2 linked regions of the Homo sapiens genome follow. The protein of the gene in region 2 purifies or fractionates together with the protein of the main gene of each other region. This does not show direct contact. Each region holds a gene or a part of one and is shown on either strand. Other genes may lie near its edges.

Region 1 (3,796 bases), on a different chromosome or scaffold from region 2:
CTACTCATAATAGCATATTAAGCTATAAAACATCCTATGTTTCAGGTAGCTATTTCTATTCCAAAATTACTTTTAACCTAGATACTAATCAAGATAGTTAGAAGGTAACTTTTATAAGATTGTATTGGAGAAACATAGATGAAAATAAAATATTTTACCTCCATTCTCATGATAATCCTATTGTTTCTGACTGTGATACTCATTACATGCTGAAATCTCAAATCTCTGGCTTGAAGACCTAACTCTTGGTATAATTCAGTTTTCTTCCTTTCTATAAAAGAAATAAACAGAGAGGGCTAAACCAAATACATTAAATGGCTTAGATTTTTCCATCAGAGCAGTCCTCCCACCACCATCAAGACAATTTTTGGTTACTACCAGAAACAAAAACTAAAATTAAGTCTTTTAATATCCATTTTTACCTAGAAAACATACTCGGGCTAAATAGAGTCAAACTAATGATTTTCTTATCTATACCTCATAACTTTCTCACTACTTAGAAGACCCTTGAGACTAATACAGAAACCACAACTATGCATCATTAGAACCTATAAATGTCCAGCTCTAGAGACAGGTTATCTCTCTTAAATATAAACTGTACACAACTATATTTTCTATTTTTACTACAACATCATCTTCAGTATTTTATATATGTGAACAGATAAGCTTGATTTTCTTTGTTCTTAGACTAATACAAAAATGAGAAAAGCTGAATTTATTACCTGAGACTGATTCATTCTCAAGGGAGATGTGAAACTCACATCTGAAGTCACACTGTAAAGTAATGCCTAGTCTCACTTTTTAAAGTAGCTGTCCACAGAGAGCCATCAGCAGCAGAGTTCCATGTGGCTGCCATGCAGTGACATGGCCCTGTTCATCTTTTGTCACCCACTGCAATGTCAGTGGTATTATGTGACTCTGCCTTAAACATGCTTCAGGAGAATGAATGAGGGCAGTGAAAGGGACGCCAACAAGAGAGACAAAAGAGAAAAAGAGTGTGTCTCTGGGCTCCAGTTCTACACCAGCCTCTGCTCTCCCAAATATTCCTTCAATAGCCTGTTAGAGCAAAAAGTGGCTCCTGCTAGAAGAAAACAATTCTGGGAGAATACACACAGTCTGAGTATTGCCAGCTCCAATTAAGACTGATGGACAAATGCTGAAGAAAGATCTCTTTCAACACACCTGTATATGCAAAGAATATTTTACTCAAAATACTACAATTTCTTGATTTCTATCAGATTCACTCATTAAATGTTTAAAAAATGATTTAGAATGCTAATCACTCACCAAAAGAAGTAACGTTTCCCTGTTTGTCAAATTTTGTCTGAAAATAGAGAATAAAACAAATTATGATTTTCTTTCAAATTAGAATGCTACTTATGGTATTGCTAATTTAGTTAAGAATTTATGGTATTGTAAGTAATATCCCCAAAATGTTGAAATGCAAATATAAACCATTACTGACCTTCTTTAGATTAAATCCAGTTATGAGTTAAGGGTTTTTTTAAAATCCTTTTTTCCTTTGATAGGAAAAATCAGACCTGGGTTTAACTTTCTATCTTGGTTCCTCTAGAAAGTTGATAAAGGAGTATCAGTTGTGTTGTTACTAGGTAACAATCCTTATGGTAAAAATGACCATTGACTGGTAGACTGCACTGGACTGGGAAGACGAACAAATTACAGTTATCAGGTGAAAAGCAATAGCTCTCTTTGCCCTTTCCTGATTGTGGTGGCTCTTGTGGCCATGTTCCCAGCCAGAATCCTGGACACTGTGCCCCTGCGATGGTTACAAGGGATACTGTCACTACGGGGCATGGGGATTCGAGCCAAGATGAATCTCACATCCACCTTTGAGAATCTTATCTCCTTGTCACTGAGCGATCACTCAGAGGACCAGAGAAGCCCCTGGATGGCTGCAAAGACTTCTTTTGAAGAGGAAACACCTAACACTACCCTGTTGTTTCTCCTGTCCCTTATCCTTCTGAGTAGACTGGGACCAAGTATGGCCCGCCTTGTGAATCTAAATGTCTACATGAGGCCAAAGTCTCTTTGGTGGGTGTTGCAGAATCAATAAAGATTTACAGAACCCCTTCTGATAGTTTGAAGAGAGGATTTGATACAGAAAATGCACCTATTTCCTGCAAAGTAGGGGACTATCTTTCAGTGATGTTTATCCACAGTCAAGTTTGAAGCTGTGAAACATTTAATGAATCACTATGTGCTGAGCTGTACTACTTACTACGACAGACACATTTCAGAAAGACACTCCAACATACAGGTTTAAGTACAATATAGGTCTTGGGTTACTACCATGGAAATATACATGCTGTGTTAATCACACAATAAAAACTCACAATATATATATTTTATCTTGCTTCTCATCAGCAAAAATAAAATTAATATGAATATATAAGTTCCATAGAACATTAAAGGAAAATTTATATCAAAGAAAGCTTTATATTTGTGTAATAGTCTAGCTTTCAGCCTTATATTTCACAAATACATAAACCCACTGCAGAAAATTTGAAAATAAATATACGTAACATAAAACTATATTAATCACCTGAAATGACAAATTTTAGAGAAAACCATGTCAATATTTCACTGAATATCCTTCCAAACATTTTCCTAATAAAACATACTTATACATACTGCTTTGCAGTCTCCCTCCTTCCAAATTAGCAACATATGCTGAATATTTTTGCATCTCAATATTTATATGTACCCTTTTTTTCTTTAATGGAACTTAAAAAAATTTTTTAAATCATACAAATTATAAAGAAAAAAATATTTACTTTGTAACCAGCTCACTTTCTAAACTATTTCAAACAGCACAAATTAAATTTTTCTTTCTCAGATTCCATAGCTTTATGAATTTCTTAAGTGTTCTTTGCAATTATTTCACCTGCAAAGAACTAACTTTCAGTATTTCACGTTTGACTTTGTATTCTTTTTTTGAGACAGAGTCTTGCTCTGTTGCCCAGGCTGGAGTGCAGTGGTGCAATCTTGGCTCACTGCAACCTCCACCTCCCAGGTTCAAGCGATTCTCCTGCCTCAGCCTCCTGAGTAGCTGGGACTACAGGCGTGCACCACCACGCCTGGCTAATTTTTTTGTTTTTTAGTAGAGACGGGGTTTCACCATGTTGGTCAGGCTGGTCTAAAACTCCTGACCTCAAATGATATGCCCACCTCAGCCTCCCAAAGTGTTGGGATTACAGGCGTGAGCCACCGTGCCTGGCCCTGATTTTGTATTCTTAACTAAATTGGCCAACTCTTCCAGAACAATGAATAACAGTGGTAACTTTTAAACGCAATTCTGGGGGTTATTTAATTTTATATAGTTTATAAAGAAAAGCTCTTATGTTAACAAGCCTAAATAATCCTAATGAAATATATTTGAGGCTTACTATATGTGAGGCACTAGTTTAAGGGCTTTCTATATATGAGTTAATTTAATCCTCATAACAATTCTATATGGTAGGTTATGCTCAGTTTTCAGATGAGAAAACTAAGGCACAAAGATGTTATTGTAACTTGTCCAAGGCCACCTAGTCAATAAGAGGCAGAGTGAGATTGGAATTTAGGAAGTCTGGCTCAGAATAGGCACACCTTTTTTTTTTTTTTTTTGAGATGGAGTCTCACTCTGTCTGCCAGGCTGGAGTGCAGTGGCATGATCCAGGCTCACTGCAAGCTCCGCCTCCTGGGTTCATGCCATTCTCCTGCCTCAGCCTCCCAAGTAGCTGGGACTACAGGCGCCCACCACCAGGCCTGGCTAATTTTTTGTATTTTTAGTAGA
Region 2 (6,201 bases):
GTGTACGCTCGATAGGGGAAGCGCCAGACATTCCCCAGGCCTACACAGTAGCCAATGCAGGACAGCAGGAAGTCCAGCTTGCCTGTCCAGTTCCCCCGGTGTGCAGCAAAGTCCACATCCAGGTCGACATCGCCCTGGTCACTGGGGGTCATCAGCAGGTCTGGGGTGACAGGCTGCCAATGAGAGAGACCAAAGAGGTTGGGGAGAAGACTGAGGCCAGGCCAGAAATGTGACCTCAAGACAAGACTCTGGAATTGAACAGGGCTAAATGAAAAGACATTCTCAGTCCAGATAATCAAGTGCTCTCAACTGGACTAACCTTGTCATATGCAGGAGAGCCTCAGGATTTTAGGCGACCAAAACTTACTGGGCCAGCAGGGTAGCTTAGGCACTAACAAAGCTACCCTGACCTTAGTCTGGCTAACACAGATGCCAAATCAAGGGATAGTCCTTTTTTTTTTTTTTTTTAATTGAGAAAGAGTCTCCCTCTGTTGCCCAGCCTGGAGTGCAGTGGTACAACCTCAGCACACCGCAACCTCCACCTCCCGGGTTCAAGCAATTCTCCCGTCTCAGCCTCCCGAGTAGCTGGGACTACAGGCGCCCACCACCACGCCCGGCTAATGTTTTGTATTTTTAGTAGAGACAGGGTTTCACCGTGTTAGCCAGGATGGTCTTGGTCTCCTGACCTCGTGATCCACCCGCCTCGGCCTCCCAAAGTGCTGGGATTACAGGCATGAGCCACCGTGGCCGGCTGGATGGTCCTATTTTGATGAGGATGAGGATGACGAAGATGAAGAGCATGATGATGATCTTAGTAAGTTACTGTATATTGAGCACTTACTATGTGCCCACTGCACTAGACATCTCACTCACATTACCTGATTTCATTCTCAGAACAACTTTTTGAGCTCAGTATTCATCTAAGCTCCATTTTCGTCATGAGGAAAACTGAGGCTCAAAGAGGTGTCATGACATACCCGAGGTTTCTACCAGGTTGGTGAGTGGAAGAACTAGGTCTGGAGCCCAAGGCTTCCTGATGCGAAAGCCAGGTCTCCTTCACCCACCAGTGCTGGAGTTTTGTTCCTCCGTTCCGGGCACCATATTTTAAGAAAGATGCAGACAATATGGAGCATGTCCAAAGGGCAGGTGGCCAGGCTGGAGGGTGTTCAGGAAAAGAGGTGATAGGAGGACAACAGAAAGAAGCTGGGAGCCCTCAGCATAGAAAGGAGAGGACTTGGAGGGACCTGGGGGTTCCCCTGAGGGAGGGAATCCACTGATGCTCCGTGGCTCAAATGGGGCCTACTAAGAACCAAGGAGATCTGACTCCTTGGTTAGGACTGGTACTTTTCAGTCACAAGCCAGAAAACTTCCCCAATACTCCCCCTCCCCGCATGCTGACAGCTTGGCTGGGGGGGTCAAACCCCACCAGGCAAGGTAGGGAGAGCCTGAGGGCTGGGTGAATTTTGTGAATTTTGGCTCATGAGCAGGAAGAAGGTACTTAAGCCGTGATCTGTGTCAGAAAGTCATAATCTTGCTGTCCCTGGAGAGGAGATGCATGCCCAGAGGGGAGCGGAGGCCAGCTGTTCCTAAGGTCTCCTTTCATGCTTCAAAGTGGGTGAGAGGTCCATGGGGCATTCTCCCTTAGGAGACCCTCAGTGATGGTGACCACAGTGGTGATTTTGCCAGAAACTGGCTATTGGCCACAGGGGCCGTGGTGACAGGAACAGCCAGACATTATTATGGGTGACGATGACAATGACAGAGCATGAAGAGCTGTTTTTAAAGTAACTAGGCTGCAAGGGGTGAAACAAATACATGCCTGGAAGTTCTTTAGCTGTGATCATGGACATGCTGAGGTGACAGGAGCAGCAGATCCCAGACTTAAGTGAAACCCACCCTTCCCCTCCAATGCCCCGTTCCCTGAGGCTGCCTCTCCAGCTGGGTGAGCATCAGCCTTCAGCAACCTCTCACCCCAGGTGAGCTCCGGGAGGAATGGTTGCCACTGTTCCTGGTGTTGGGTGGTGAGCAGGCCTGTTACCCTGAGACACCCCCCGCCCATCCCAGCACCATTCAGGCCAGTTAGCAGGAGGTCCCAGTAATGAGGATCCTCTGATCCCTCCAGAGAAGCTGCCCTTTCCATGCTCATGGAGCGGTCCCGGTTCTCTGTTTCCATGGTGACTAGAGTTCCAAGAGCAGGATGCTGCCAGCTCGTCCCCCTCCTCCCCCAATCAGAGGGAAGCCTGCTTCTGCTCCAGGGGCAGGAGATAGGGTCCTCCAAAGCTGAGCCAATCAGGAGCCCAACTGGAGTTCCCAACCCCACCATGGGGTGAATCCCAGGAGGCTGGCACAGTGAGGATGGGGCTGGTTGGGAGATGGAAGAAAGCAATCAAATAGCTGGGGCAGGGCTGGAAGCTGAATGAGTTGCTTCATACTTCTTCCTGGGTGTAAGCCTCCCACTCCTGAATCTCCCACTCCCTACCCCAGGGGCATGCAGGAACACACAGCTGAGTTTGTCAGACCTGCATGCTCGCCTTTAGGGACTCACAGCAGGGGCTGGGAGACTCAAGACTGCCCAAGCCAAGACTCTTCAGGACAGAGAGAGACAATAGGAATCTGGGGTCCAGCTTCATCATTGTGCAGATTAGGAAACCAAGTTTCAGGAAGAAGGGATGAGCCCAAGGTCAAACAGCAAGTTAAAGGCACAGCAAGACTTGGACCTAGATCCCCTGACTCTAAGTCCAGTGTTCATCTCTGAGCAATGCTGCTCCTTTGCGGAAATCTGGCATTTTCTCATTCCCGCCCAATTCTGCTTGAGAAAAGGGAAAGGACCCTGAGAGGAGGTAGCAACCTAGAACCAACCCTCTGCCCTGTTGGCTCTAGGTTGCCTAGCCTGCCAGCAGGTAAGCAGTGAGTCTCACCCCTCTGTGCCTCAGTTGCCTTATTTATAAAGTGGGGCTACTAAGACCTAGCCCCTGGAAGTGTTAAAGGATTAAATGAGATAAAGCTTGCTAACCCCCCAGCCCAGCACCCAGCAAGAGGGACAGGGCCTCTTGTGGGGAGGGAGGGCAGAGAGGGAAGAGAAGGAGAGTGGAAAAGAATGGAAACAGGACCCAAGAGACTCACAAATGGTCTCAAGAAGTCACTCATGTCAGTGAATAAAAAAGACATACCAGCTGGGCGCAGTGACTCACACCTGTAATCCCAGCACTTTGGGAGGCCGAGGCGGGCGGATCACGAGGTCAGAAGATCAAGACCATCCTGGCTAACACGGTGAAACCCCGTCTCTACTAAAAATACAAAACATTAGCCAGGCGTGGTGGCGGGCGCCTATAGTCCCAGCTACTCGGGAGGCTGAGGCAGGAGAATGGCGTGAACCCGGGAGGCAGAGCTTGCAGTGAGCCGAGATCACACCACTGCACTCCAACCTGGGTGACAGAGCGAGACTCCGTCTCAAAAAAAAAAAACAAGAAAAAGAAAAAAGACACACCACAGTGGTTCCAAGCCCAGCTGCCCCAGAGCAGAGAACTTGAATGAATGAGTGTGTGTGTGAGTGAGTGTGAGTGTGAATGTGTGTGTATGTAGGGAGGTTGATAACACCAGCCCCTGAGAACAGTCTTCTCACATCTACCAGCCCTTTAGCATTCTTCCCCACACCTCACACACCCAGTGGGGCCTGTTTTGGTGCCTCCAGGCTAGGGCTTAGCCAGAGGAGGTTCAGGTTAGAGAATGAACTTGTCCAAAGTCACCAGGCAAGTGGCAGCGGCAGAAATAGTATTCAGGAGATCTGACTCCTTAGTTAGGACTGGTACAAGCCAGAAAACGTCCCCCAGTATTCCCCCTCCCCATATCCTGACAGCTTGGCTGAGAGGTCCAATCCCACAAGGCAAGGTAGGGAGAGCCTGAGGTCTGGGCCCACAGCCACTCTCCCATACCAGCTTCCATCTTCATTGATCATATCCTCCTGCCTCCGATAGCCCCCTCCCTGTCTTTGCCTCCCTTCAGCCCTGCTGAGGGGCAGCCTGGGGTCTCAGCAGGCAAGCTAAGGGGGCGGGGAGGGAGCAGGCAGGAAAGAGGAGAGTCTTCCCGCAGGCTCAGGGAGCCGGCTTCAGTATGGATGACCGCCTCCCACTCCCCACCCCTCAGATGAGTCCAGCTCAACGCTCAGGTATTCCAATACCCCCCACACCCGGCAATCAGCTCCTGGCGGGGAGCAGCAGGGTGGAATTGGGGAAGAGGTGGGTGCCTGGCCCCGGCCGCCCCTACCCCGCGCCTCCGGGGACTGCAGACACCTGTTCATAGGCCTGGCCCAGTGAACCAGGACTCCCCTCATACTACATCCCGAACCCCAGATGGCAGGGGCAGAGGTGGGGGCGCAGACCGTGACCCTGACCCTCCCTGTTATCCAGCTGAGTCGGGCCTTCCCCAGAGCCCGAAGCTGGTCTGGGTGCATCCTCAGACCTTCCCCAGGGGCCTCGTTGGGGGCGGGTCTCTCCAACCCTCCTCCAGGTGCACCCCCAGCGCCCCCGCCCTCGTGCCCTACCTTGCGGAGGTGAGCTCCCTGGAGCTTCTTCATCTTGGAGAGCGGGTGGCCGGGGCTCAGCTGCCCCGGAGCGCAGAGAGCGAGGGCACGAGAGATGGTCCGCTGGCCACTGCGCCTTTGCCCCCGCGGCTCCCGCGCACCGGCTGGGGCGGGCACGGACGCAGGCGCTGCCGTCTGGCGGCTGCGGGCGTGGAGCGCGGGCAGGGCGCTGCGAATGCCTTGTCTGTCCCTGCGCAGCGCCCGAGGCTGGGGAAGGGTGCACTGCTGCGCCCGCATAGACACCCAGACAGACAGCTGACGGACGGACGGCGGGGGGATGCGCGCGCCCCCGCACGCAGAGCTGCGGATTGGAGAGCCCTGAGCGAGTGGGGAGGGGGGTTCGCGACGGAAACCCTCGGCTTTCTGCGTGACCTTGGGCAAGCGACCTGCCCTCTCTGGGACTCCCTTTCCACAGTTGGGCAAGGAACACTAACAGCCCACCCCCCTGCGTCGTCTTTGCTGTGCGACCTTAGGGGATAAGAATCTCTCCTCTCTTACAGGAGTGTGAGCAATTCAGGAAGATGGAGCATAGAAAACATCTAGCACAAAGAGCCTGACACATAGTAGGTGCTCAGTTAACATTTATTCACTGACTGTGGGTTGCCCACGCCACCATTAGTCCAATTATTCAATCTATCAGTATTTATTGAGCACCTAAAATGTGCCAGGTCCTGAACTAGGTGTCCTATTTTCTCAACCTGGAGAGACAGGTGTCGTTACTCCTATTCTACAGATGAGGAAGCTGAGGGACAGGGAAGTTAAGTTACTTACTCAAAGTCACGGGGCTAATGAGTGACACCAGGGACAGAGTCAGGCTTCATGGACCTTTAGGCTAGTAGAGTCTTCAACTCTCCTCCTTTCCTTAAGATGAAAGCAAAATGGGGAGGTTTGGGTGAGCAGAAGGGACAGGCAAGTGCCACAGTGTCACTGTGATCTGTGACTTAGATGATTAGTAACTGGTTTCCTGTCCAGCAGCAGTATGGCTTCTGGAAAGTTCTAATTTCATATCTGTAAAATGGGCCACGAGCCGCCCATGCATTGTTGCCTCAGAATGTTCTGAGGGTCCAGTGAGCCTGTGGCTAGGATGGGAAATGATGAGCTGGAGCAATGGCACACGTTGGTTTGCTGGGACTGACTGATAGACACTAGCGGATCAGTATATACATTACAAATTGTGTCCTTTTCACCCTCGCAAGTGTCCCAGTTTAGACATTAACCATACATCTGTTTGGCTCACTATCAGTTGACACGGTGGGAGGCCTTTGGGGAGAGATGAGAATAAGGTTCTGCTCTCTCCCACCTCTGGAGCTTGAAAAAAGGTTGGAGGGGTTTAAGTCAAAGCATGGACTTGGGTAAAGGCCTGGCCAGGCTCCAGTCCACCCCTTCCCCTGCCCAGGTCCTGTCAAACTTCTCTCCCCTTTGAGCCTGGCCACAAAGGGCAAACCAGGGGCTCTCCAGACCCAGGAGGAAGGTGTCTCCTCTGCCCCCTGCCTGCTGACCCATATGGGGCCAAGAGTGGCTGTGAGTGTGAAGAGAAGGAGCATTTATGGAGCCCTACTGTGTGCATTATGAAGGATTTTTGCATCCAACATCTAATTTTTAATTCTTTCCAACTGTCTGGG

The links.
Region 1: the proteins of SLC6A7 (region 2) and MRS2 purify together in Homo sapiens (affinity purification with mass spectrometry; one large-scale study listed by BioGRID and IntAct). This does not show direct contact.

The regions. Positions count from the first base shown.
Region 1 is NC_000006.12:24,405,936-24,409,731, reverse strand, and holds part of MRS2 (magnesium transporter MRS2 homolog, mitochondrial isoform b precursor), read right to left. Parts: intron 1,325-3,796; coding exon 1,288-1,324; intron 272-1,287; coding exon 159-271; intron 1-158. UniProt on the Homo sapiens protein: Magnesium transporter that mediates the influx of magnesium into the mitochondrial matrix and regulates magnesium metabolism. Also permeable to calcium, sodium and potassium ions.
Region 2 is NC_000005.10:150,188,700-150,194,900, reverse strand, and holds the start of SLC6A7 (sodium-dependent proline transporter), read right to left. Parts: upstream 4,840-6,201; 5' UTR 4,817-4,839; coding exon of another isoform or gene 4,574-4,816; coding exon 4,541-4,573; intron 174-4,540; coding exon 1-173. UniProt on the Homo sapiens protein: Brain specific sodium (and chloride)-dependent proline transporter. Terminates the action of proline by its high affinity sodium-dependent reuptake into presynaptic terminals.